Linked DNA regions of Homo sapiens. The protein of the gene in region 1 interacts with the protein of each later gene in a pairwise test. Each region holds a gene or a part of one and is shown on either strand. Other genes may lie near its edges.

Region 1 (7,027 bases):
AGGTCTCAAGGGTACAGCTTGGTTACATCCCCAGGCCCCAGGCTGATTCTCCTGCCATCATACTGCAAGCCTTCCTGTACCACTTTGACCCAGGTTGAGGTCTGGCGGAAAATAACCTCAAAGGCAATTAATACAAAAAGCTTCCTGTAAGCTAAGAGGGGTTATCAACTATATGTACTTATTTTTCCAGAGATTGAAGAGAGAAGAGAACGAGCCAAGGCTTGGTTTTGTTTTATGTTGGTGGCACATGTAGACACTTTGGCATAACGAACCCCATAGAGCCTGCAGCCCAATCCACTCTGTTTTGGTTTAGAATGAAGTTTTTTTTTTAATTATTTTTCTTGGAAGTAGGGAGGATTTGAAAGCTTGAAAATCAAGAATCAAAAGACAGTGAATCTAGAAGGCATCTGGGAGCAGAACAGAGATTGAAGACGGGTGGGCACAGGAGAAAGCGCCACCATCGATCCCGGCTGCTGCCCTGGAAATGTGATTTTCTTAATAGCTGAGTTCATGGTTGCTTGAGGTCAGGCCTGGCTATTCATTTCCAGCGATGTCTGACCAGAGAGGACTCATCATTGACGACCTCAGGGTCACGGGGGCGACGCTGACACCGGAACGGCAGCAGCAGCAGGACGATTAAGACAAGGAGGATGGCTCCACAGACGCTCATGAGCGCATAGGACACAATCCACAAAATGGGCTCGCTCAAAGACTGAGCGGGGACACAGTTGCTGGCTACATCCTCTGTTGAGAAAGGCCCGGAAATTTCAGACACTGCAGCACCTGCAATTTCTGGGGAGACAGAAAGGGAAAATCCACAGCTGTGAAATGAGCGGTCCACCTCTCACATTGGACACAGACAGAACCCCTTGGTTTATTAAACCACAGTTAAAGTCCACTGAGGTCCCAGTGGCTTAGACAGCTCAGGAAGCACTGAGTGGGGTCACGGCTCAGCGTGCCTTTGGGGGTCCAGTCCCTGCAAACTGGAACGACGGCATGTTTTAAGGTGTGTGGGTACCGAGCCTAGGTGTGGAGGGGAACTGCAGCAGGGCACATATGGAAGCACCCTGTGCTTCATGGAATGCCAGCGACACTGCGGTACTACACAGGTGAGAGTGCAGGTCAGCACCTGGTCATGACAGCTGTGTGGGTTGTGCTTCCTCAGTGGAGATGAAAAAAGAGGAGAAAGAGAAGGAGAATTTACCGCAGAAAGCTCAGCTGGACCTGCCTACGTCATGGGGAATTTTCCCCAGTGGAGTCAACCTGAGTTCACTCCCTACCATGGATTCTACAACAGATAGGGACCTCATATCAACCTGACTCATAGTCTTAGTGGGTTGTGAGACCTCCGGGGGTCAGGCTGGCTTGAGAGACCCTCCCTGCCCCACTCTTATCCTAGGTCTCATCAACAGCCAGGAGCAGTAAGTGAATGCAACACCTAATTCATGACATCACTGGTGACAAAGAGAAACAGTTAAAATTCACCCGGTGACTTCTGCTAGAGACTCTTGAATAACTTCAAACCAAGAAGGAAGTTGAGATGATTTCTTAAAGCCGGTTTGTGGATTATCTGTAGACTTCCTTTGCCTACACTAGGCTTCTCTGCCCCTTTCAGGAATATGGGATCTTAAGCTTTACTTGCAATACGGAAAAGAAATAGGCCTCATTACCCATTTTTCCTATATTTAATCACAGAAATGAATATTTTGGCACCAGAAAATAACACTGCTAAGAATTTGATTTTTCTGTAACTAAAGCCTCAAGATCTTCAGAGCTGCCAAATAATACCCTTTTTGACTGAGGAAAGAAAAAGTCAAAATAACAATGCGATAATGACCTGAAAAGAATGGTTTTAAAATCAGAGGAAAACAGGCTTGATTACTTTGCAAAGTGACTGCATTTTCTTGCTAATGTGGATTCTGTCATAATATGGCTTTCCTAAGTGCACTGAAAAAGAAAGGCAATGAACAAGAGCCTGCCAACACCGAGAACAGAGGGATGCACCCTGCAGTCAATCTATACTCCCATTTCCTGGTTTGTAGATAATGATCTTCTTGCTGTGTCTTTACATGGTGGAAGAGACAAGGGAGCTCTCTTGGACTGTCTTTAATAATGGGCAGTAATTCCATTTACAAAGAAAAGCTCTGCCCTCGTGACCTAATCACCTTCCAAAGGCCCCAACTCCAAATATCATCACCTTGGAGATTAGGTTTCTGTTGCGGGAAGTCAGGGACCCCGAACGGAGGGACTGGCCAAAGCCATGGCAGAAGAACATAAATTGTGAAGATTTCAGACATTTATTAGTTCCTTAAATTAGTACTTTTATAATTTCTTACGCCTGTCTTTACTGCAATCTCTGAACATAAATTGTGAAGATTTCATGGACATTTATCACTTCCCCAATCAATACTCTTGTGATTTCCTATGCTGTCTTTACTTTAATCTCTTAATCCCATCATCTTCCTAAGCTGAGAATGTATGCCACCTCAGGACCCTGTGATGATTGTGTTAACTGCACAAATTGTTTAAACAATATGAAATCTGGGCACCTTGAGAAAAGAACAGGCTAACAGCAATGTTCAGGGAACAAAGGAGATAACCATTAGGTCTGGCTGCCTGAGAGCCGGGCGGAACAGAGCCATATTTCTCTTCTTTCAAAAGCAAATAGGAGAAATATCGCTGAATTATTTTTCTCAGCAGGAACAGCCCTGAGAAAAAGAATGTGTTCCTAGGGGTAGGTCCCTGAAATGGCTGCTCTGGCAATGTCTGTCTTTTACGGTTGCCGATAAGGGATGAAATAAGCCCCGGTCTCCCATAGCGCTCCCAGGCCTATCAGGACAAGGAAATTTCCGCCTAATAAATTTTGGTCAGACCAGTTGTCTGCTCTCAAACCCTGTCTCCTGATAAGATGTTATCAATGACAATGCGTGCCCAAAGCTTCATTAGCAATTTTGATTTCGCCCTGGTCCTGTGATCTTGCCCTGCCTCCATTTGCCTTGTAATATTTTATTACCTTGTGAAGTATGTGATCTCTGTGACCCACACCCTATTCGTACACTCCCTCCCCTTTGAAAATCACTAATAAAAACTTGCTGGTTTTGCAGCTCAGGGGGCATCACGAACCTGCCGACATGTGATGTCTTCCCTGGACACCCAGCTTTAAAATTTCTCTCTTTTGTACTCTTTCCCTTTATTTCTCAGACCGGCTGACACTTAAGGAAATAGAAAAGAACCTACGTGAAATAATGTTGAATTATCGGGGGCAGGTTCCCCCGATAGGTTTCAACATAAGAATTTTGGCAGGACATAAACATTGATTCTACAGCACTAATTATGCAAAGAAGCAGGAAAACACAGTTCATAATAGGGAGCAAAATCAATCAATTGGAACTTAGTAAGAAATGGCACAGATGATAGAATTAGCAGGCAGGATATCAAGATATTTATTATAACTGTATTCTACTCAGGATGCCAGAGAAAATGTTAAACATGTTAAATAGAGACACGGAAGACATTAAAGATCTAAATCAAATTTTTAGTGATAAAAATTATAATATGTGAGATGAAAAATATACGGGATGGTTGTAAGAGCAGATTATACACTGCAGAAAAACAGACTAATGAATTTAAAAAAAACCAAAACAATAGAAATGAAGCACAGAGAAAAAACTGAAAAAAAAGAGAGAGAGAGAACATCAGTAAACTGTGGACAATATCAAGCTGCTAAATCATGTAATCAGAGTACTCAAAAGGAAGAAGGGATTGTGAGGCAAAAAATATTTGAAAAAACCAAAAATTTTCCAAATTTTATGAAACTATAAACCCACAGACCCAAGAAGCCCAAAGGACCCCAAACACAAGAAACATGACATAGATTATAATAGCGCACTGCTGAAAACCAGTGATAAAGAGAAAATTTCCTAAAAGCAAGGAGAGAGAAAAAAGAAATATTATGTACAAATGAATAATAATAAGGATTACAGATGATTTCATGTTGGAAGCAATGCAAACTAGAAGACAATAGAGTAACATCTTTAAAGTACTGGGGGTAGAAGAAGCCCTGTCAACCGAGAACTCTATACCCAGCAAAAATATCTTAAAAATGAAGAAGAAATAAAAATATTTTCAGTCATACACAAGCTGAGAGAACACATCACAGATTTTCACTACAGAAAGTTCTTCAAGCAGAAGAAAAAGGACATCAGAAGGAAACTTGAATCTACACAAAAGAATGATGAACACCAGAAGCGGGAAGTATATAGTAGTTATAAAATCTTTACTTTTAATTTTAAATATTTACAAAGATAATCAATTAAATCAAAAATTATAACAATGTGCTGGGTGGCTTATAATATAGGCATAGGTAAAATGGATGACAATAGCACAAAGGACCGAAGGCAAGAAATGGAAGTCTATTGTTGGAAGGCTCTTAGACTATATGAAGTGGTAGACTGTGGTCAGTTAAAAAATTTACACTACATATTCTAAAGCAACCACTAAAATTTCACGATATAGAGTTATAGCTAATAAACTAGCCAAGGAGATATAAAGAAATAGAAAATAATCCAAAAGAAGGCAGCAAAAAAGGAAAAAAGGGAAAAAATGTAACAAATGAGACAAAAAGAAAAATAGTTTTCTTTGTTGTGTTACTGGTTAAACACAGACATATCAATCATACATTAAATATAAATAGTCTAAACCAGCATTTGGCAAACTTTTTCCGTAAAGGGCCAGATAGTAAATATGTTAAGCTTTTTAGGTTAGCTTCTTTCTGATTTTTTCAACCCTTTAAAAATGTAAAAACTATTCTTACCTCACAGGCCATACAGAAACAAGCCACATGCTGGATTCAGCCTATAGACTGTTGTTTGTGGATCTCTGGCCTAAACATCACAACTAAAAAACAGAGACTGCTAAATTAGATAAAAAGCAAGATCCAAGTATATTCTCCCTACAGGAAACTCACTTTTAATGTTAAGACTCAAAATGTTAAAACTAAACAGATGGAAAAAAACTATCATATTAATGCTTATCAAAAGAAATCCAGAGTGGCTATATTATTAGACAGAATAGATACAGATCAAAAAAATTACTAGAAGTAAATATAGTAGTTTCATAATGATAAACTGTTTCCTTCATAAATAGGACATAAAAATCCTAATGTTTTTTTACCTAATAACAGTGTTTCAAAATACATAAAACAAGATTGATGAAAATGCAAAGAGAAATAGACAAATCCACAAATATAGTCAGAGATTCCAATATCCGTTTCTCAATAATAGAGCAAGTAGACAGAAAATAAGTTATGATATAGAATACCTAAACAACACTATTAACTAACTTGATCTAACTATTATAAACTAATCCACCCATAATAGCAGAATATACATTGTTTTCAAGAGCACAAGAAATATTTACTGTGATAGACTATATTCTGGACAATGAAATAAGTTTCAATAAATTTCAAAAGATTCAATTCATAAAAACTATATTCCCTGCCCACACTGAGGTTATATTAGAATAACAGAAAGCTTCTGGAAAAATCCCTAATTATTTGGAAACTAAATAACACATTTGTGGCCAGGTGTGGTGGTGGCTCATGCCTATAATCCCAGCACTTTAGGCGACGGTGGTAGGAGGATCACTTGAGGCCAGGAGATGGAGGCTGCAATGAACTATGCTCACGCTACTGTACTCTAGTCTGGTGACAGAGCAAGACCCCATCTCCATTATATATATATAAAATCTTTGTGTCCTGGGGTTAGGCGAAAAATTTCTTAGCTATAGTACCCAAAAGCACAATTTGTAAAAGGAAAAAAAATGGATTTTATCAAAATTAAGTAAGAACTGCTCCTCTTTAATAGAAAATATTAACAGACTAAAAAGACTTGGCAAAAATATTTGAAAGCCAAATTTCTGATAAAGGACTTGTATTCTTCATATATAAATAACTCTGAGGACTCAATGAGAAAACAAACAACCCTATACAAAAATGGGCAAGAACATTTGAAAAGACATTTCATTTAAAAAGATGCATGAATGGCAAAAAAGTACATGAAAAGATATTCAGGATTATTAGTCATTAGGGAAATGCAAATTAAAGCCACGATGAGACCGCTAAATATTAATACCTATTAAAATGAAAATACTGACCATACCAAATGTTGGTGAGGATGTTTAACAACTGGAACTTTCATACACTGTTGGCAGGAATGTGACATGATAAAGCCAACTTTGAAAATGAGTTTGGCAGCTTTTTAAGTAGTAAAACATACATGTTATGTAACTCAACGATTCTACTCCTAGGTGTTTATCCAGGAGAAATAAAAAACAAAATATATGTCCAAGGACTTGCATGCTATTGTTGATAGCAGCTTTATTTATAATTGCCAAAAAACCCAAAACTTGGCAACAATCCAAAAGTTCATCAACAGGTGTATGGGGATAAAGAAACTATAATGCCTAATTGATCTGCAATAAAAATGAACTTTTGAACATGAAACATTATAGATGAACCTCAAAATAATTTTATTGTGTGAAAGCAGTCAGACAAAATGGAATACATACTGTATGATTTCATTTATATAAAATTCTAACAAATACAAACTAGTCTACAGTGACAGAAGGCACGTCAGTGGTTTCCTGGGAATGGCATGGGGTCCACAGGACCTGGGAGGCAGGGAAAACAGCTCAGTGCATATGATCACTACCTTGTTTGTGGTGATGGTTTCAAGGTGCGCACACATATAACACTTATCAAACTGTATCCTTTCAACATGAACTGTTTATTTTACACCAATTATATCCCAACAAAGCTGTTTCAAAAAGTCAAAAGAATAAGATAGTCAAAGCATGTCAAAGAATAGCACATCTGTTATAATCTCATTGAGATTAGAAAAGAAAAACCGAGGCCAGGCTCGGTGGCTCATGCCTGTAATCCCAGCACTTTGGGAGGCCGAGGCAGGTAGATAACCTGAGGTCAGGAGTTGAAGACCAGCTTGACCAACATGGAGAAACCCCATCTCTA
Region 2 (7,027 bases), on another chromosome or scaffold:
AGCCCTGGGAGGTGGACCTTGTAGTGAGGTGAGATCATGCCACTGCACTCCAGCCTGGGCAACAGAGGAAGACCTTGTCTCAAATATATATACATTCTTCATTATCTTTGATTTTCTCACTGGGAATTAGTGGCCCTGACAAAATAACTTTCTTACACTCCAGTTTTCCCACGTATCGATGAGTGGCAATAAAATATCCTTGATTACTTTACAGGGAGGTGGTGTGATACAGTTGAAAGAAAACAAGATTTGGCATCAGACGTTTTCCCTGACCATGTGTTCATCTGGACCACCCCACCAGCCCCTCTCAGGTCCTAGTGACCATTCTGCCCCCAGCACCCACTGACCCCACTGCAGCCAAAGATCCCTTCAAAGCAAATATCTGATCATGTTCCTCCTCTCCACAAAAACCCAAAGCTTCTCCCATGGTAAGGAACAAAACCCTTGGCCTGGCCCCAAGGAGTCTCCTCCCAGCAGCCTGTGCTTGCGTTCCTACGGTGCTCCTGCTCCCTCACTCCCATTCCTCAGAGAGGCCCCTCACTGCTGCCACAGGGCTTTGCATGTGCGTTTCCCTGCCCAGAATCCTCCTTGCTTCTTCCTCTGCCTAACAACTCTTATTCTTCATCCAGCCCTCACCTCCACATCACTTTACAGGGAGACCTGGCCTCCCAGACTCATCGGGTCCCCTGATTATATGCTCTTTGGGAGAGGTAGCGCTTCATGATATTCCTGGGCACAGCTATCACTCTACATTTGTTTTGTGAGTACCTGTTTAATCTCCTTCTCTATGGGTTAGCTCCATGAAGACAAGGGCAGTGACTTTTTTTTTTTTTTTTCATACCACTTTATTTCTGATGCCTACTACAGTGGCCAGGACATAGTGGGCCTTCAACAATTACTTCATTGAGTCAGTTTATAAATTTACTGATTATGTGACTTTTAAAATGGAGATAATAACAGTTGTGACATTGGGTCACCCTGTGTTTCCTTCTTATATATTGTTTCATGTAATCTTCCTATATATTCCTCTTCTATATTGTTTTATGTAATCCTCATAACAACCCTGTAAAGCATGGTTGTTATGAGGATTACATAAAACAATATATAAGAAGGAAAATACAAAATAATAAAGCATATAAATGTTGGTCTTGATCTTTATAGACTTAGCTGAAAACAAACTAAGACAATACCACATAAAAGCTTTACACCAAAGATAAGCCAAGAAAAATATTATTACAAGGGGACATCTTAGGTGTTAAGGGGATATCTGTGAAAAGTTTCCAAGAGATAGGATATGCTGACGGATAAGATTTAAGATTTCCCAGGCTTATAAACACGCAAACTGGAGAATCACTTAGGTGCACCCCATGTTTAACCTATGAATCCAAAGAACTCTAAACAATGTCCTTCTTTACCTTGTCGTGGTTCTCCTGCTTGCTATAGATGGCTGACAAGAGGCGATAGCATTCAAGGCATCCGGTCTCCTCTGACACAATGTGATTGGTCATCTTTTCAGCTTCTTTTGTCTGACCCATCACGGCCAAAACCTGAGCCTACAAAACCACATGGACCTTGGCTTAGCAGAGACTTCATTACCTTATCAAATAAAGCATCCCTGAATAGAAGCATTCAGAACGCACTCCTGACAAACATGCTCAGCATCAATTTAGTGACTCATAGAGAAGGCTGAATCACCAGTTTTCAGGTTTTGACTTTTTGCTGTTTGTTTCTTTATTTAGTTTTGTGCATGCATTTGTGAGTGAGTGGCAGAAACACTAAATATATCCAGTGAAATGGCTTGTGGCTTTTAAAAAAGGTTGACCAAATAAGTCAGAAGAGAAAGAATTTCCTCTGATTTCATCAGAACAGTGTGTTTACAGCAAGATAACAAATTTGATTTATTGCACATCTAAGGAAAAGGATGAGTGAAGTTCCAAACACTGAAATAAAAATTTTGTTGGTATGAATGTTAATTTTCCTGAGTCTAATAAATACACTGTGGTTATGTTAGAGAATGTCCTTCTTAGAAACTATTTGCAAAGGTATTTAGAGATAAAGGGGAATGATATATACAACTAATTCCCACATGGTTCAGGAAAAAAATAACACACACTAATAATAGGTATATACAAACATACATATCTAAATATGCACACATATACATGTAGGTACATATACATCTACATATGCATACACAATGGAGTGATAAATGAATCAAAATGTTACAAATCATTGGAGCTGGATGAAAGGGTATATGTAAATTTTTTACTATTCTTGCAACACTTTCATAAGTTTGAAGTTATTTCAAAACAAAAATGCAGTATTTTTGGTGTCCATGTCTTTAGAGAATGGCTCTAACATTAGCTGTATGAATATTCATACAGTGGATATATTACGGCATTCCAGCTCCAGTTTTGAGGCGTGAGGACTACAGCTCTCTCTATGGCTGCCTGTGCTTAGGTTGCCAGCTTCATTTTCTTTCATCCTACTCACCAGTGCCAAGCGGAGCTCCCTCTGAGAAGGCTGAAGTGCTGCAGCTTCCTGGTAAATCTGCAAAGCCTCTTCGTATCGGCCAGTGTTGTAATACAGTGCTCCCAAAGGTGACAATATCTCAGCTTTGTGTGCCACCTGCAGGGCGCTGAGTTTGGAGAAAATCTAAATGACATTTCTCTTCTAATAGGTACATTTCCAAATGTCTAGGCTTAGATTTAGGGAAGACGGTCCATGGTTTGAACCTCTGCTCCAATACGGTCTTTGTTTTTATATCAATAACAAGGTTTTTGGCTTTTTCTTTTTTTTTGAGACAGAGTCTCACTCTGTCACCCAGGCTGGAGTGCAGTGGCACAATCTTGGCTCATGCAACCTCCACCTCCCAGGTTCAAGTGATTCTCCTGCCTCAGCCTCCTGAGTAGCAGGGATTACAGGTGCCCGCCATCATGCCCGGCTAATTTTTGTACTTTTAGTAGAGACGAGGTTTCACCATGTTGGCCAAGTTGGTCTTGAACATCTGACCTCAGGTGATTCGACCATCTTGGCCTCCCAAAGTGCTGGGATTACAGGCATGAGCCACCGCACCTGGCCAAGAACAAGGTTTTTACAAAATGATCATGATGCCATAGTTGGAACGTAAGAATGTCTTATTGACCTATCAATATGGAAACTGAGCCCCAAGGGTCTTTCTCATTAATTATGATGAATTTGTTCTCATGTGTGCATAGTTTTTCATGTATCCTCATTTTTTAAATTGCTGTTTATGATTGGGGTTGCAATCCATGGCTTCAGAAAACAACAAACTGACTAAAGTGGGAATTAAATTTCAACCTTGGTTCAGCACTATAGTCTAACCAGCAAGCCAAAGTCATGAATTATGATCCCATTTATATTGTGGTTGCTTTCTTTGGAGATAAAAATTTGTATCACCTGAATTGGCAAAATTTGCTAGTATTCTGAGAGCACACCTATTCTGATTAACTAAGAAGCTGATGAGTGATTGCTGAGGTTCCTGGGCAACTTATAAAGAAAAGAAAGGGAACTTTACCGCTTGTACCATTCTTCAGCCATGCTGTTCTCTCCCAGTGACCTGTAGAGTCTTCCCAAGTTCACCATGGCCACGTGATGACTGGGGCTAAGTTTGATGGCCTGCTGGTAATGGGCCACTGCCTTTTCTGGTAAGCCTGTAACCAGTGACAGGTTGGTAAGAGCAGAACATGCCTTTTTATAAAAGACATGAACATTTCACTTTCTCTTCTGACTTATAATTCTTTCTCATTATTACAGAGTTATACCAAAATTATTCAATATGCAAATTAGCTTGCATTTCAGCTTCTCATCCTGGCCATTGCCTAACTTTGAACAATTTCACTGTTCATTCATACTTCCAAAAAAATTAACAAAAAAGCAGTAAAAACTAAAACCTATTGTTTTAATTATATATATTATTTTAGTCGAAATTTTTCTGGTCATCGCTCTTGCTAATAGGATGCCTTCAGATTATTAGTGATTGTTATTTATCCAAGATATAACTGGCTCTCATTATATAAAAAATAGAACAGGCTACTGTAGAAATAAAACTGTCCAGAAGCAATTTCTAAGGGTCTGTCTCAATGAACTATACTTCAACATAGCAATTGAAGCATTACTTTAAATAACACATATCAGCTCTATAGTGAAAATCTCTTTTAAAATCATGCACTTTCATTTGAATGGCACTTAATTAATAAGACTTACAACATAATAATGCCACCATGCACTTGTCCAATGCATTATATATTTTTAAATACTTACATTTGTATGGTTTTTGCAGGTATTTTTTTATACAATTTAGCTGCCTTTTGATACTGTTTAGCTGTTTATCAGGATTTAAGAGATATTTAAAAAACCACACACAAAAATTTTCCACTTTACAGATATAGACACTAAAGTGCAAAGATATTCAACAGACTTGATAAAGATCCCAAGGCAAGTGAGAGTAAGGCCAGAAGCAGAATGAAGGCCCTCTACTCTGATAGGTTTCTTCAAAGTAGCTTCCTGGTGAAACTATATTCAGTAACTACACTTTAGAACACTGTGAAATTCTAAATAGAATGGAATGTCTATTATCTACACAGAAATCTTTTCAAGCGTATCTGTTTGAATACAAGTTTGACTAGGAGGTCCCTAGGAGCCTCTGTCTCTGGAGGCAGAGGCTCAATGTCATAGGGTGGTCACAGAGTTATCATTTTTAGGGGTGTGGTGGGGTGGGACTGTTGTTGAAGTAAAAGGAGGAGGGTTAGACCTGCCCAACTAGAGGTTTCTTCTAGTTTTTATATTTTTAAGACAGTTTATTATTATGTGGCCAATGAACCAGCAGGTGGCACTACACAACAATTTTACACAGGCAAAAATAAGGTAAGTTTCTTAGATGTATCAGAATGTAAATTTTATATTCTGTAAAACAAGAGAGCTCCAAATATCCTTGAAAATAAAACCCCTTTAAGCATTTCATATTGAAAAACTAATTAAACTAAATTTTGCTGCAGGGCAGCTAGTCTAGTAATCAACAAGAACAAAGTGGTGCTTTGGCCTTACATTTAAATATAATTTCATTACTTACATTGCATGCCAACAGTACAGAGGCACTACATAAGTCATAAAGAAAAGAGAATTCATGCCCAGTAATGTTTTGCATTAAGTAAGATAAAGTAAGTGTATTTTATATAGCACCTGTCATATAAGAGCATTGTATCAATTTTAATAATGCAGTTTCTAATGTACATCAAGGAAGGAATGATGGAACAATTCTGGAGGCTTTTAAAAAATATGTTATAGAAAAGTATTTACCATCTGCCAGTAACTGCTTTCAGAGGCAGGTTTTGCATCATTGTAGAGAAACATTTCATCATCATGGATTTATAAATATATATAAATAATATTCAAAGAAGATTGGGACTTATTAAATCATAAGGCTACTTCCTGTCCCCTGGGGAGTTTTCCATAGAGAAATGAGTATGAGAATGGCCAGATTTTACTGAATCGAGCTTGAAGATCTAGAGAAATGACAGCCCCGAGGTATAATGACTGTCAATAGTGTGAGCTTCCTGCCAAGCCCAGTGAATTTTACTTCTGAGGATTATTTGCCTTCCATTTTGCTTGATAAATTGTATTAGCTAATCTCAGCAGTACAGTTTCTCTTTAATTTCACTTACCAGTATCAACTAAGAAAACCCCATAGTTGTTGTGTAAATCTGAGCTGTCTGGACAGTTCTTTATTCCAGTTTGGTATATTTCTTCAGCTTCTTTAAACCGCTCCTTTAAAAAGAAAGAAACAAACAAAATAAGTGAGAAAGCTTTCTAAAACCAACAATAACTGAATATTAGGAGCAGGAAAAGCAAAAAAAAAATAAATCTTACTAAGCACCTAATATACAACAGGCTACTGAGATAAGGCACTATGAACTTTGTTTGAATTAAAGGCAATATTAACTGTGTACAAAATACCCAAAATTCATATCTGTATTTAGTTCCCTTAGGGCGAAAAAGATGATGTTTTCTCAAATGGGACCTTTGGAAGGATATGGACCTGTACAACATGCACGCCTACCGGGGAAAAAGGACTGAAAATAGTTGTTCGAATAGGATGCCCTTCACCCCGGTGACTCTCCATACGAAAACGGGGGATGCAAAAATGGTGGAATGTTTTCAGAGGTGGCAATGTGGTTGGGAGGCAGGGCAGTCTGGGGAATTTGTTTTCTAGCTGCATTTGGATAGATGACTCTCTTTTTATCTATATACTGTACTGCTTGTTTTGGGAAGTTTTTGAGGGAAGTAGAGAGGGGAGGCAGATGCAGATGTTGGGGAGGGCTCTGCCCTATCCTTTCATTACTTGAAGTATGTCTACAGCCCACCAGACTGGTGGCTACTTCCCATACTCAGTCCATGCTTTCCACCTCTGAGCTGCTCCCTCCAACAGGTTTATATGTCCCCTCAAGGGTGTACCTCCAACCTGTGTGGCAAGGTTCAGGTCGATCACCACATCTCTCATTCTAGGGCTCCAATTCTAATTGCCCTTGTGTTCTCTTTGTCTAAAGATTCACTTTAGCAAACTTTAGTAATTCTGAGTTACTTTTTAGGTACATTTTTCTTTTTCTTTCTTTCTTTTTTTTTTTTTTTTTGAGACAGAGAGTCTCACTTTGTCGCCTTGGCTGGAGTGCAATGGGGCGATCTCGGCTCACTGCAACTCCTGCCTCCTGGGCTCCAGTGATCCTCCCACCTCAGCTCCCTGAGTAGCTGGGATTACAGGCATGTGCCACCATGCCCAGCTAATTTTTGTATTTTTAGTAGAGATGGGGTTTCCCCATGTTGGCCAGGCTGGTCTCAAACTCCTGGCCTCAAGTGATCCGCCCGTCTTGGCCTACCAAAGTGCTGGGATTACAGGCATGAACCACTGCACTTGGCCCTTTTAGGCATATTTTTCACAACCATTAGAGACTGTTATGTCACACTTACTTTTACTATACAGAAGGTGAAATTAATTAATCAAAGGTTCCCA
Region 3 (7,027 bases), on another chromosome or scaffold:
ATTGTCACATTAGCCTTAAATTTCCACACCGTCATTTCTAAGGTATTAGTGCCTTGAGAAGAAATGCAGTTTAAAGATCATGAATTCTAGTTTTCCAACTGTAGCCTACTCCCGTTGGTATTGAGTGGAGGAGAAGAGGCAGGTCTCCAACCCTGCTTCAGAAACAGCAGCTCCTGCTGTGCCCAGTTTGAGTCTTGTGTAAGGTTTCTCTTGAAGAAAGAATTGCTTCTTTGAAAAGCCTGACCCTGAGCCTTATGCCACCACCCAGGTGTAGTGGGCTCCATTGCTGCTTCTTGGGAGCTTCTTGAGTCAACAGCGTGGCCCTTGGGTTTCAAAGTGGGGTGGAGGCTCCAGAAATGATGGGGTTCAGCCCTTCCCCTGTTGACATGGAGCTCGTGATGGTCACTCTGACTTGCTTCATGACCTGCAGTTGTGGATCTGCATTTCATTTGCATTGGGACTGCACATATCCTGAATTAATTAGTTAATTTGTTTATTTAAGATAGAGTCTTGCTCTGTCACCCAGGCTGGAATGCAGTGGCACGACCTTGGCTCCCTGCAACCTCCGCCTCCTGGGTTCCAGTGATTCTCCTGCCTCGGCCTACCGAGTAGCTGGGACTACAGGCATGCACCACCACACCCGGCTAATTTTTGTATTATTAGTAGAGATGGGGTTTCACCATGTTGGCCAGGCTGGCCTCAAACCCCTGACCTCAGGTGATTCGTCCACCTCAGCCTCCCAAAATGCGGGGATTATAGGCGTGAGCCACCGTGCCCGGCCCCTACCCTGAATTTAAAATGAGCTTTTACAAAAGGAGTCCTTTGCCCTCTTGTTTCCACCAAGCTGGATTCCTGCTGGTCGAGCGCAGGAATTGCAGCGGATTCTGGTTCTCCAGCTGGAAGGGCTCTAGGTCTGTCGTCAGCCTTCATCTAAGGGCAGAAGTGTAAAGAGCACCTGCCCTCCTGCCTTTTTTAAGTTGCATGACAAGTGTATCATCACATGCCATATGTATAAGATCAAGCACACATGAAATAGCCCCTGCACAGGGGTCGCTGGCTGGAGTAAGGAGGGAGTAAGTTTCACTCCGTCCTTTGCTTCCTGGCCTTGGGCAAATTAACTTAGAGGTATTGGGCCTCAGTTTCCTCACCTGTTGAGATGGGGGCATTCGCACACCTGCTTCCTGGGGTTGTGAATTCAGGGAGGGCTGGGAGCTCACATTTATATGGGTGTGGAGGCGCCGATTGTTTTTTCTCAGCGGTGTGAATGAGTTGTGTTGGACTGTGTTAGGATTCGACACTCAGCAGATATGCATGTGGTGTTGTGCCGTGCCGTGCTGGGCCCAAAGTGCCAGGTGGGTGAGATGTGTTTGATGCCTGTTCAGTTAAGAAATAAGCTTGTAGATCATCATTGCGGGAGAGGAGATAAGGGCCTGTGATGTAAGAACAGTGGGGCATTTGCCGAGAAAGAGAAGGGTGGGCGATCTGTGGGGCAGAGGATAGTCCTGGGCTCTGTGACATTTTTGCTGGAGAAGACCCTCTTCCCCTATGTCCTTGTGCTGCTCTCCCAAGGCTGTTCACGGGTGGGGTGAACGGGCACTGGTACCAGCTCCGCTTAGTGCCGGCAGGACTCTGATGAACACTCTTGACCCTGTTTCAGACCCTCAGTGCAGACGCAAGCGTGAACACCCTTCCTGTAGTGGTCTCCAGAGAGCCCTCGGTGCCGGCTTCTTGTGCTGTATCAGCAACGTACGAGCGATCCCCCTCCCCAGCTCATTTACCCGAGTGAGTATTGGTGTTCTTCCAGCGCCTTGGTGTTGACTGACTTGAATGGCCTGTGATGTTGCATGAGATTCAAATATCGGGTGGCATTTTTACAGTGATCCCAAGGTGGCGGAGAAACAGAGGGAAACCCACAGTGTGGACAGACTTCCTTCCGCCCTCACTGCGACCGCGTGTAAATCGGTGCAGGTGAACGGAGCCGCCACGGTACGTACCTCGTGCCTGCCTTCCTGCACGACAGCCGCGAGGCTCTGGTGTGAACAGACGCTGCGCACTCCTGCACCTGCTCGTTTTTTAATCACATCTAATTTGGTGGGTTTTTATTTGCGTCTGTCTGTGTTGTGTTTTCTGTACAAAATACCTTTAATATTTGCTAATAATTTTCCACTAACTACTCTAGTTCTTTCTCAGACCACCATGTAGTCCTTTTATTTCAGTGTTGGTCAATAGAGGTTTCTTGAGTAGTAACAAGACCCCAGCTCCTGTTTCTCCATAGACTTTAGGATCATTTCAGCATTTCGCGCGTGTGTGTATGTTTGCGTGCGTGCGCGCGCATCGTGTGTCTGATGAAGAGACAGGAAGAGCAAGATGGTGGCCCCACCAGCCTCCAACCCCTGTGGGCCCAGCAGGCCTGAACCCCAGCGACTTCCTTTCTGCTGTTTTCCCTACTGGGTGAACTGTGGCCTCTCTTACTCTGAGTTGTGGCCTCTGTAGTTTGATCTTGGGGGAGCCTTTTCCTTGAATTTGGGAGTTTAATCCCTTACTGTCCCCTGGGCTGAGTCTAAAAAAGGATTTTTTATAGGTTAAAATTAATAATTTTAATAATAAATAATAATAATAATAAAAGAGGCCAGGTGCTGTGGCTCACGCCTGTAATCCCAGCACTTTGGGAGGCCGAGGTAGGCAGATCATGCGGTCAGGAGATCCAGACAGTCCTGAACAACATGGTGAAACCCTGTCTCTACTGAAAATACAAAAAATTAGCTGGGTTTGGTGGTGGGCACCTGTAGTCCCAGCTACTCAGGAGGCTGAGGCAGGAGAATCACTTGAACCCGGAAGGCAGAGGTTGCAGTGAGCTGAGATTGCACTGCTGCACTCCAGCCTGTGCGACAGAGTGAGACTGTGTCTCAAAAAAAAAAAAAAAAAAGTTATTAAGGGAAATATTTTACTTTTCTGTTATTTAGTCTTTATGCTTCCACTTACCTGAAAACCCTATTACACATTTCTTGAAGATTTTAGCTGTCTTCATCATTCTTAGATATTTCCAGTCCTTTGTAGTTTGAAATGTGCAAAACATTTTTATTTAAAGACTGTTTTTGGAGTTTGCCTTTCAGGGTTGAGTACCGTGTGAGGGTCCATTGCCCACCGTGGGCACCTGGGACACCCTTCTGTTGTCCTGAGCTGGCGGAGCCAGTGTGGGCAGCATCCGGACTCTTCCTAGGCTTCCGCATTGCCCAAGCAGGCATAGGGCTGGGTAGGGATGGTGTTGAGTCAGCACTCTTCTTCGTCATGCCTTTTCTAATTTTATCCATTACTACAGTAGCACAGAGGGAGTGTTCTGCTGCAGGGGAAACTAAATCATTAGATTTTATGAACTTTTTAAAAGTTAAAAACACTAGTGAAGATGGAAACTTAGTTACAGTTGAAAACTCTTTTATCTTAAGTGAACTTGATTTCCTGTCTTGTCCCTAGAGACACCATTTCACACAGGTAACCCAGGATTGTCTGTTTCCAGGAATTGCGAAAGCCCAGCTACGCAGAGATTTGTCAGAGAACGAGTAAAGAGCCTCCTTCTTCCCCATTGCAACCCCAAAAAGAACAAAAGCCAAACACTGTTGGTTGTGGGAAGGAGGAAAAGAAGCTGGCAGAGCCCGCAGAGAGATACCGGGAGCCCCCAGCCCTCAAGTCCACACCTGGAGCCCCCAGAGACCAGAGGCGGCCGGCGGGGGGCCGGCCCTCGCCCTCGGCCATGGGGAAGCGTCTCAGCCGAGAGCAGAGCACTCCCCCCAAGTCTCCTCAGTGAAAACCGTACGTCTGGGAGGGGTCGCAGAGCGCTGTGTTAACCACAAACGAGACACTCTCCCACTCAGTGCGAGGGCGAGCCGCTGGTTAGGAGCTTGCAGTGTCTGAGGCCTGTGGGATCCTCAAGTTGGTTTTCTTCTGTGAGTTGGATTCTCCCCCTCTTGAAAAAAAATCGATTTTTCAGGATTTAATTAATACAAACCTTATTTTAGGTTGGTGCTTAACTGGAGGTGATGCATAAGTCTGATTTTTTTTTCCAAGATAGAAAAAGCATTTATCCTAACAAATTGGTATTTTTTATTAAGCCTCCATGTGGCTCTGAATGCAAGCTATATATAGTGAGTTTTTCTAAATTAAGGGAACTCTGCTTTTTTTTTTTTTTTTTAAGTAACTGGTCTGTAAGTGCATATCTCTAGAACGTCCCCGCAGATGAATGAGGGCCAGTGGCCTTGGCAGAGGCAGGTGTGGCCTCGTAGAGGCAGTGCTGGCCGCGCCAGGGCATCAGTGCTGATGTGGGAGCTGTGCTTCCACCTAAGCCGTTGGTAGGGGACTGTGGCATTTAAGAATGTAGAGAGCGCATCCTTTTTGATCTCCTGGGCGGAGTGAACCTGCAGGGGCCACCCCAGAAACCTTGGTTCTGATGCACTGCAAGCAAGTAACCAGCTTCTCACTCCAGTTTCAAGTGGCTATTATGTAATATAAATTCAAAGCACATTGTGAATAGAACCTACATGAAAACATACACTTTGTTGCCCACTGACATGTTACCAGAAGTTGTACCATGATGTTGTTTTGACCCCTGTGAGCTGATGGCCCCGGCCCTGCTCTGTGCACATTTCTGTCCGTGTTCCCCAGCACTCTGGTTGGAGAGAGTCCACATCTTCAGCTCCGTGTGGACATCTCCCTGTACCTCTGCATCAGCACATGGATTTAAGAGTTATGTAATCGTGAGAGAATGGTGTTTGTGGTTTTTCCCCCTCTTTGGCTGGTGGAGGATAAAGTTCCTGCTCTTTTACCTCCAAGACGAGGGCCTCATTGATTCACTTCCAGAAGTGCTGCACTTCTGAAGAACAAGGATGCACTAAAGTTAGCAAGTTTATAATAAAGTTAAATATAAATTATTTTGTTTTAAAATGCCTCAAATTTTTCTTTATTCTAAGCAGCAAACATTAAAATAAGAATATTTCCTGCTAAATGTAACCATACACTTTATTCCACAAAATGTTATTTAACAAGACTGAGGGTTTTTTTTAAGAAAAAATTATTTCCATCCAATATTTAAAGACTTGAATTTTATTTAAACTTGAAAATGACTTTGCCTTAACTTTTGTATAAGACAGCTTAGAGTCCATGGAGCCCGGCCCTGGGTTGGCGTGAGTGGGTCAGAGTTACTCAGTTACTGCGTGGATCTCCTGTCGCTAGTTTTACTGAGTAAGCATACTGTAGTACAAGAGCTAGTAGTAGTTTTTGTAATATACCTTAAAGATCTTCAACAGTTGATCTTTTTTCAGAATGTTGGAAAATCCTGTAAATGCAAATAGTCAATACTGTATTAAATACGTGCACTTGGAGTGTGCTTCGCTTGTACAGTTGTAAATAATCAGAACATATGAAAAAGGTACCCTACAGAGAAAATTCTGATACAGATTATTGATATATTATAAATGTTGCTGTTGAGCGGGATGTAGATAAACTAAATGTTGTGGTTTGAATATTATTTTGATTTGTTGAGATTTTCTTTTTTCTCTTACATCGGTGTGTTGAACTGATTCTGCCTCTTTGCTGCAAAAGGGAATTGGAAAGTCTTATTAAAAGCCTCCAGATGTTTTCATACTCTTTTAAAATGTATGTAAATGCATACTAATCATATCTAATGTGAAAGAGTTTTAAAGTATATAGAGAGCAAAAACTGGCAGGATCGTAAGTGAAGGTGACTAGTAATCTAATTTAAATCACCTGCAGCTAAGCATGATTGACCCTGCCAGAGGAAAACATGCCTATTTGACCATTTCCTTTAAAGCAGTTGCCATTATTCAAATACAGAGAAATAGCCACAGGGCTAGTGTTTTTCAAATGCATTTTAAAGAACATGGGGATTTTTTTTTGTAGTTGTCAGTTCACTGACCAAAAAAAAAAAAAAAATCAGAAATAATTGATCTGTGAAACCCAAACTCTCAATACTCAGAAAGCTGGGAGGCAACCTCGAGGCCTGGGCCTACGAGCTGCATCTTCGCTACGGAAGGGCCAGGGCGCCATCAGCCATTCCCAAAACACAAGGCCTGCCCGTCCGCCAGTGAGTCCTTGGTTTTTAATAATGAGAAGTCCTTTCCCCCAAGGTGTGAGCATTGCAGCGCAGTGTGTGTGTGTGGTTAGAGCCAGCTTAGTCCTTCACTTTGTCGACCGAAGTGGGAGCTCAACAGCTGCATGAGGAGGGCAGCGCGTGCATTAGCCAGTCGCCACTGGAGGGCTCTGCTGCCCTCCGGTCAATACACTGTAGTTACTGCCTAGCCAGCAGCAGTCTTCTGCATCAAGAACTGAAACGTTGCTCGGAGGTGATTTTTATAGCATCCTTTTTAATTAAAGGTGAAATACAGATTGCTATATAATGTCTGAAAAAACCTGATACTACTTCAAGAGTTTCTGCTCAGAAGAAAATGAGAGTTATCATAATAGGAAGCTGTGGCGGTCCATGCCAACTGTGCTGTGTCACATACAGCGATGAGAGTGGCTTTCATACTTTTTTTTTTTTTAAGTTAACACCCTCCTTTACCCCCAGCAGTATCTCAGGTTATAGAATCAGAGATGCAGCAGTGACAAATGGCATTTTAACTTGTAAAATCGTGTGATGATGCTTATCATTTTGAAATAGAAGAATAAAAACCTGGTCCCGTTTCACCAGACATGAATTTCAAGTGGAGTCGTCGTTCTCTGAGAGTGAGTGTCTTGACATTTTCACCCAGGCCCTCCTGTCATCACATCACCGGCTGTCACTGGCGGGTGGCCGTAAACGTCCTGCGTTGCTATATTAGGATCTCTGCAGTTCAGGCTTCAAAACCAGTTCAGTGTATCCGGGCGACGGGTAGTGGTGGTGCATGCCTGTCTGTGTGCCCCGCTGGCGAGCTGTAGTTGCGGCTTGCGTGCCTCGCGGCCCACTACAGGGCTGCAGACAATCGAGGCGAGGGCGCTGGCCGCCAGCAGCTCACAGCGCGGGGGTCATGTGGTCGCT
Region 4 (7,027 bases), on another chromosome or scaffold:
CTCGGCCTCCCAGTGTGCTGGGATTACAGGCGTGAGCCACTGCGCCCGGCCTTCCCCAGCTAATTTTAATGTGTTCCTAGGGTTGAGAACCATGGCCCTTGAAACAAATTATAACTCATGTTTTTGAAAATAGCCAGTTGTCTCCTTGCCACATGTGAGTTAAACTAGAACAGAGGTGCTTGACAACTAAGGGTTTTCAGAATAAATAGTGCCTTTCTAAGGGTACGTTACTACTGTGCAGCTGTGAAAATGAAAGAGGCAGCTATGTGTATACTATTAGAGTAGCATGCAAATTATAGAAAGTGAGGGCCGGGCGCAGTGGCTCACACCTGTAATCCCAGCACTTTGGGAGCCTGAGGTGGACGATCACTTGAGGCCAGGAGTTCAAGACCACCCCAGCCAACACAGCAAAATCCAGTCTCTGGTAAAAGTACAAAAATTAGCCAGGCGTGGTGGGGCGCGCCTGTAATCCCAGCTACTCAGGAGGCTAAGGCACGAGAAGCACTGGAACCCAAGAGGCGGAGGTTGCAGTGAGCCTCCCTCTTTTTTTTGGTCTCAAAAAAAAAAAAAGAAAGAAAGTGAGGATAGCTGCATGCTGAATACCGGGGGGAAAAAAAAGAGTGTGGAAAACAAGTTGCAGAACCGTCTAGTATATTATTACTTTGGGGAAGCTGGGATGGGATTTTTGTGTGTATATATATATATATATATATATATATATATATATATATACACATATATTTAAATAATATTTATTTATTTTTTTGAGACAGAGTCTCACTCTATCCCCTAGGCTGGAGTGCAGTGGCACAATCTCGGCTCACTGCAACCTCCACCTCCCGGGTTCAAGCCATTCTCATGCTTCAGCTTCCCTCAAGTAGCTGGGATTACAGGCGCCTGCCACCACGCCTGACTAATTTTTGTATTTCTAGTACAGACAGGGTTTTGCCATGTTGACCAGGCTGGTCTCAAACTCCTGACCTCAGGTGATCTGCCGGCTTCGGCCTCCCAAAGTGCTGGGATTACAGGCGTGAGCCACCACGCCCAGCTGTATATATCCATATTTTTATTTAATATTTTAGTATTTAATTTCTTAATAAGTTTTTTTGGGGGTGGTGGAGGAGACGGTGTCTCACTCTGTCGCCCAGGCTGGAGTGCAGCAGTGCGATCTTGGCTTACTGCAACCTCTGCCTCCCGGGTTCAAGTGATTATCTTGCCTCAGTAGATGGGATTACAGGTGCTTGCCACCACACCTGGCTAATTTTTGTATTTTTAGTAGGGACAGGGTTTCACCATGTTTGCCAGCTGGTCTCGAACTCCTGACCTCAAGTGATCCACCTGACTTGACCTCTCAAAGTACTGGGATTACAGGCATGAGCCACTGCGCTTGGCCAGGATGTATTACCTTTATAACAAAAAGTTTTTTTTTTTTTTTTGAGACGGAGTTTCGCTCTTATTGCCCAGGCTGGAGTGCAATGGCTCGATCTCGGCTCACCGCAACCTCCACCTACTGAGTTCAAGTGATTCTCCTGCCTGAGCCTCCCAAGTAGCTGGAATTACAGGCATGTGCCACTACGCCCAGCTAATTTTGTATTTTTAGTAGAGACGGGGTTTCTCCATGTTGGTCAGGCTGGTCTTGAACTCCCGACCTCAGGTGATCTGCCCGCCTCAGCCTCCCAAAGTGCTGGGGTTATAGGCGTGAGCCACTGTGCCCAGCCATAACAAAAAATTTTAAATGAAATAATTAAACTAAGGTGTGGGAGTAGTAACATGGAATTTCCATTTGAGGGGCAGACAGAGAGGAGTGGGCTTTTAAAAGTACAGTTCTGAGACCCTTGGAGTGGAGCTGACGACACACTCCTCAGGGTGTCAGTATTGCTTTTGTCCTATTTCTGGCAGAGGTATGAAGGTTATTGAAAACCGGGCCTTAAAAGATGAAGAAAAGATGGAACTCCAGGAAATCCAACTCAAAGAAGCTAAGCACATTGCAGAAGAGGCAGATAGGAAGTATGAAGAGGTAAGTGACCTTCTGTTAGTCCCTCTCGTATCGGCCTTTTACAAAGCATAATGCGGTAAATGGCTCCTTTGCTTCACTAAGCTATACTGGGATCTTTTCCTGTAGGTGGCTCGTAAGTTGGTGATCATTGAAGGAGACTTGGAACGCACAGAGGAACGAGCTGAGCTGGCAGAGTCGTGAGTATCTAGCTCCCCAAATCTTGTCATTACCAATTTATCCCTTCCCCTTTGGCTTGGGCACTAATATGAATAAATTAGCATTCCTTCAACCTTGTTAAACAGGGCCTAGGGAATGGGAGTCATCTATAGTGCTTTTTTAGGCCCAAGAATGGTTTTAGGCTTCCTTATTCTCCTGACTAGTGACAAGTGACAAAAGAGGCTTTCTTATTTTTTGTTGGTAGGGTTTACAAATTGAGAGCAAATAAGGACTAATACATGGTGAACAGTTAATTGGAAGATCCTACTGGGTCCTTCCACCTGGGGTGGAAGACATCAAAGTGGCTATCCTGATTTAAGATCTAGTGTCTGGCTGGGTGTGGTGGCTCAAACCTGTAGTCCCAGCTACTTAGTATGCCAAGGCAGGAAGGTTGCTTGAACCCAGGAGTTGGAGGCCAGCCTGGGCGTCATAGGGAGACCCTGTCCCTAAAACAAATAAATTTAAAAAAAAAATCTGGTGTCTGTTTTGGCCACTTTGCCAATCTGCTAGGGAACCTTAGGGCAAGGGTAGATATTAACTGCTCTCCCGTCGGTACCTTCTGGGCCTTGATTAACAAAGTCAGTGCTGAATGCATATGTATTTGTGCTTCCCTCTTACATTCCCGTCTGCCAGACATAACATATCATGACCATGGTGGTGTTCTCTTCCCATTTTTTGAATTTTTTTTTTTCGTTTTGCTGCTTGTTTTCTTGCTGTGTTCCTTTTTGACCTTTCTCCCTCCCCACAACCTGGCTTGTGCCATCCCCGTGACTATCACTAACAGCCGTTGCCGAGAGATGGATGAGCAGATTAGACTGATGGACCAGAACCTGAAGTGTCTGAGTGCTGCTGAAGAAAAGGTACTAACCATTAAGCCCACAGCAAGGTTATATATGTGGTGTGGTTTTGTTTTGTTTTGTTTTTGTTTTGCAGCTGCCTCCCCTCCACTTGATTTTGTTGAGTGCTGTCTCATCTCTTCATGGAATGCTCCATTCTTTTCCACTTACTTGGCATCTTTCATCTCTTCTTTCCTAGTTGCTTCACTGCCTCTCCACAGGGTCTCCTTCCTTTGGGTGATTTGGGGGACTGTTTGGGTTGGGCATTTGTTCCCACCTCCACCCCAGGTAGCAGTTATGACTTGTTCCTGGTAGTGGATTTCTCTCAAGTGCTTTATTAGTATTCAAACATTTTTGAGCCCAGGAAGGTCTAGCTCCTGACACGTTCTATGGTAGAGGGAGGAGGGTTGATGCTTGCTCAGGTTACTTGGGAACATCTCTTCCCCAGTATGCCTTCCAACTCTCTCTACATATAGGTTCAATTCACGTCTATGTGTCTCTCTCCCTTTTTTTATTCTCTTCCTTTTCCCTTTTCCTCTCCTGTGGTATTTAAAATATTCACAGTAAGTGTTCTGAGCTGGAGGAGGAGCTGAAGAATGTCACCAACAACCTCAAGTCTCTTGAGGCTCAGGCGGAGAAGGTAGGGGCTGGTTTGTGAAAGTGACAGGCTTTGGGGCCTGGGCCCAGCCCTGCCCTTGATGAAAGACTGGAGACACGCATTCCATATATAATCCAGTGAGGCGTGTCCTCTTCCTACCTCCTTACCATGTATTCAGGTTCTGGGTTTAATGCTATTTTCTGTGCACTTTGATTGCTTTAATTAAAATAACTTCTTGGTCTCAGGTTACTGGAGTCATGTGCTCCTTAGGCTGATACTGCTGTGCTGAAAAGCAATAATCAAGGGCCCTAACAGGCTTTCTAGCAGACAGATGGGGGCAACAGACAGAATCAGCTCTGAGACCTAATGAGCAATCAAGACAGATGACTTCACTTTGCCATCATGTGGGTGTGTTTCAGTCATGTGACCTTGGGGTGCTACTACTCTTGCTCATCAAGCAGGGGAAAGGAAAAACACCTCCTTGGGTTGATCTGAATAATATCAAAGCTTAGATCCATCTTAAAAAGTCATGGAGAATTTTAACCTGAGGATCTCATGGCTCTAAAGACATAGATTTCTGAATTTCAAGGACCTATTGTCCAGAGCCAGGCCTTGCTCTTACTCTTGGACCATTCAGCACATTTAGTGCAAGAGGATATTCAATGTAAGTTAAATGTAGGGAGGGGGGTATTGCCTGTGTGACTAATTTCTACTCTGAAATTTTTAATCTACTTATCTTACAGTACTCTCAAAAAGAAGATAAATATGAGGAAGAAATCAAGATTCTTACTGATAAACTCAAGGAGGTGAGCTGAGGGGATTTATAGGGCAGAACCCAAAACATTTAGAGGTATATAAGGCATTAATATGGATTTAAACTGGCTGGTTTGGGTTCTGAAAGGTCCAGAAGTAGAAGGTGGAAGAAATAGAGATTGTTCTTCTTTGTCTTCATCTCTGGTTCTGACTAATTTCATATTTCCCCCAGGCAGAGACCCGTGCTGAGTTTGCTGAGAGATCGGTAGCCAAGCTGGAAAAGACAATTGATGACCTGGAAGGTATGGAACCTGGAGTAGGGATTGAAATAGAGAAATATAGAGGAAGACTGCCCATTAACCATTAATCTCTTTTTCTGTACACCAAAGGAAGTTGGTAGTGACTTGGCATGTATTAATATCATGTGCACTGTCCTATGCCACAGCTAGGCAAAGTGGGTCAAACTCTAGAATTGGTTTTTTAAATTTAATCTTTTCCTTTAAGAAGACTTTACCAAATAGTCTGCAATTTGTACCCTTCCCTTTTGAGGAGAATGATAATGGCTGCATTTACCTCCAATTTATTAGTCTTAAACCTTTAGTCTGTGGGTTTAAATGGAAGCCATGATTTCAGAAGGGCAAGATGTATGTCATTTCATGGCTACTTTCCACAGTTCTTTTTGCCACTCAAGTTGTCGGGTATTTATCCAATAAATGAAGTTGTGGAATAACCATATCTGAACATTGACCAATGTCAGGAGCTTTCTAAATACTTTCTGTCCCTGCAAGTTGGTAACTGCCATCCACCCTGACAAGGGAACGTACTCTTTGCTTTGAGAACTCTGATGTATGCTCCTTTGGTACACTCTCTTGGCAGAGTTGCAGGGGCAGCCTGTGGAGCAGAGGGGCCACTAATAGGTTCACATTTTGTAGGCAGAGAAGTGTCTGAATATGGATATATACTCTCTCCCTTTGCTATTTTTGTTCAATTAAGTGTTATCACTGCTAGGAATTGGGTACCTGGATGGGAGTGGTATCCTCTTGAGTGCTTTTGGTAATAGGAATTTCTAGTTATGACTGTGCCCAGGTTCTCAGCCCTTGCTGCAGTCGATTTGGAGTATCAAGAAAGGAAGTTGGTCATAGGAGAGAGTAGATCTGAAAATGTCCAGTCATGGTTGCCAGAGTAGATATTTTCCTAACTGTGGTATTAGACCCACAGTCACACTTTCCTAATTTCTAATGATTCCCTCTCTTCATCTGCTTCTGAAACTCTTCACTCTGTCCCCTCATTCCTCCCTGTGGTTCCTGTGCCTGTCCAGATGAGCTCTATGCCCAGAAACTGAAGTACAAGGCCATTAGCGAGGAGCTGGACCACGCCCTCAATGACATGACCTCTATGTAACTATCTGACAGTAGAGTGGGGCTGGGATCTTGGCTTGTGGGTGGATGGGGGTACAAGCTATGCATAGTGGTGTGCTTTGGTTTTATCCTTTGGAAACTAGAATCTCCACCCTTATCTTTGAAACATTGGTGCTGGTTATTTGTTTGGCAAAAGCTTTGGAGGCATGGCCGGGCGCGGTGGCTCACGCCTGTAATCCCAGCACTTTGGGAGGCCGAGGCAGGTGGATCACGTGAGGTCAGGAGTTGGAGACCAGCCTGGCCAACATGGTGAAACCCCGTCTCTACTAAAAATACAAAAAGTAGCCAGGCATGGTGGCAGTGCACCTGTAATCCTAGCTACTCAGGAGGCTGAGCCAGGAGAATCGCTTGAATCTGGGAGGCAGAGGTTACAGTGAGCCAAGATGTGCCACTGCATTTCAGCCTGGGCAACAGAGTGAGACCCCATCTCAAAAAAAAAAAAAAAGAAAAACATTAAAGGCTGGGCGTAGTGGCTCACACCTGTGATCCCAGCACTTTGGGAGGCTGAGGTGGGCGGATGACTCGAGGCCAGGAGTTCAAGACCAGCCTGGCCAACATGGCAAAACCCTGTCTCTACTAAAAAATATTTAAAAAATTAGTTGGGCTTGGTGGCGCATGTCTATAATCCCAACTACTCGGGAGGCTAAGGCAGGAGAATCACTTGAAACCAGGAGATGGAGGTTGCAGTGAGCCGAGATAATGCCACTGCACTCCAGTCTGGGTTGAAGAGCAAGACTGTCTAAGAAAAAAAAGCTCTGGAGGCAATTAATCTTGGATCAGAAGGAGAACCCTGACTGACTTGTAATTTTTATATTTTGTATTCATAGTTTCTTCATTATACTGTGATTTTTCTATTTGCTTCTCAAATTTAGTCTTCTCAGAAGGGATACTGCTAGAGGTAGAATCCATACAACTAAGGAAATAGGGCCCACAGAGCCAGTAACTTGGGCCCTGACACATTAAGACAAAATTCAGGCCTCCTGGGTGTGTTTAATTGGTTCCCTGATATTAAAGTTCAGGGAACTACCCAAGATGGGAAATACCAAATTCACCTAAGAATTGAGCTGAGTCCCAGAAGCAAGCCAAGTGATAAACAGCACCAAAAAGAGTTGTTGGGGCTTCATCTGTTTGCTGTGGATCCCTGATCCTTGATGCTAATCTGCCTCTTTGTATCTTTCCCACTAACCCTGAAAAGAAGCCACATTTCTCA

The links.
Region 2: the proteins of BACE2 (region 1) and TMTC1 interact in binary tests that used the Homo sapiens proteins (3 or more experiments, as listed by UniProt).
Region 3: the proteins of BACE2 (region 1) and LARP4B interact in binary tests that used the Homo sapiens proteins (3 or more experiments, as listed by UniProt).
Region 4: the proteins of BACE2 (region 1) and TPM3 interact in binary tests that used the Homo sapiens proteins (3 or more experiments, as listed by UniProt).

What each region holds. Positions count from the first base shown.
Region 1 is NC_000021.9:41,269,136-41,276,162, reverse strand, and holds part of BACE2 (beta-secretase 2 isoform A preproprotein), read right to left. Parts: intron 793-7,027; coding exon 539-792; 3' UTR 1-538. UniProt on the Homo sapiens protein: Responsible for the proteolytic processing of the amyloid precursor protein (APP).
Region 2 is NC_000012.12:29,514,934-29,521,960, forward strand, and holds part of TMTC1 (protein O-mannosyl-transferase TMTC1), read right to left. Parts: intron 6,131-7,027; exon of another isoform or gene 6,000-6,130; intron 5,788-5,999; coding exon 5,685-5,787; intron 4,888-5,684; exon of another isoform or gene 4,798-4,887; intron 3,675-4,797; coding exon 3,539-3,674; intron 2,639-3,538; coding exon 2,494-2,638; intron 1,554-2,493; coding exon 1,416-1,553; intron 1-1,415. UniProt on the Homo sapiens protein: Transfers mannosyl residues to the hydroxyl group of serine or threonine residues.
Region 3 is NC_000010.11:809,701-816,727, reverse strand, and holds part of LARP4B (la-related protein 4B), read left to right. Parts: intron 1-1,657; coding exon 1,658-1,782; intron 1,783-1,877; coding exon 1,878-1,986; coding exon of another isoform or gene 1,987-2,091; intron 2,092-3,471; coding exon of another isoform or gene 3,472-3,514; coding exon 3,515-3,802; 3' UTR 3,803-7,027. UniProt on the Homo sapiens protein: Stimulates mRNA translation.
Region 4 is NC_000001.11:154,168,074-154,175,100, reverse strand, and holds part of TPM3 (tropomyosin alpha-3 chain), read left to right. Parts: intron 1-1,899; coding exon 1,900-2,017; intron 2,018-2,122; coding exon 2,123-2,193; intron 2,194-2,996; coding exon of another isoform or gene 2,997-3,072; intron 3,073-3,612; coding exon 3,613-3,688; intron 3,689-4,389; coding exon 4,390-4,452; intron 4,453-4,631; coding exon 4,632-4,701; intron 4,702-5,717; coding exon 5,718-5,796; intron 5,797-7,027. UniProt on the Homo sapiens protein: Binds to actin filaments in muscle and non-muscle cells. Plays a central role, in association with the troponin complex, in the calcium dependent regulation of vertebrate striated muscle contraction.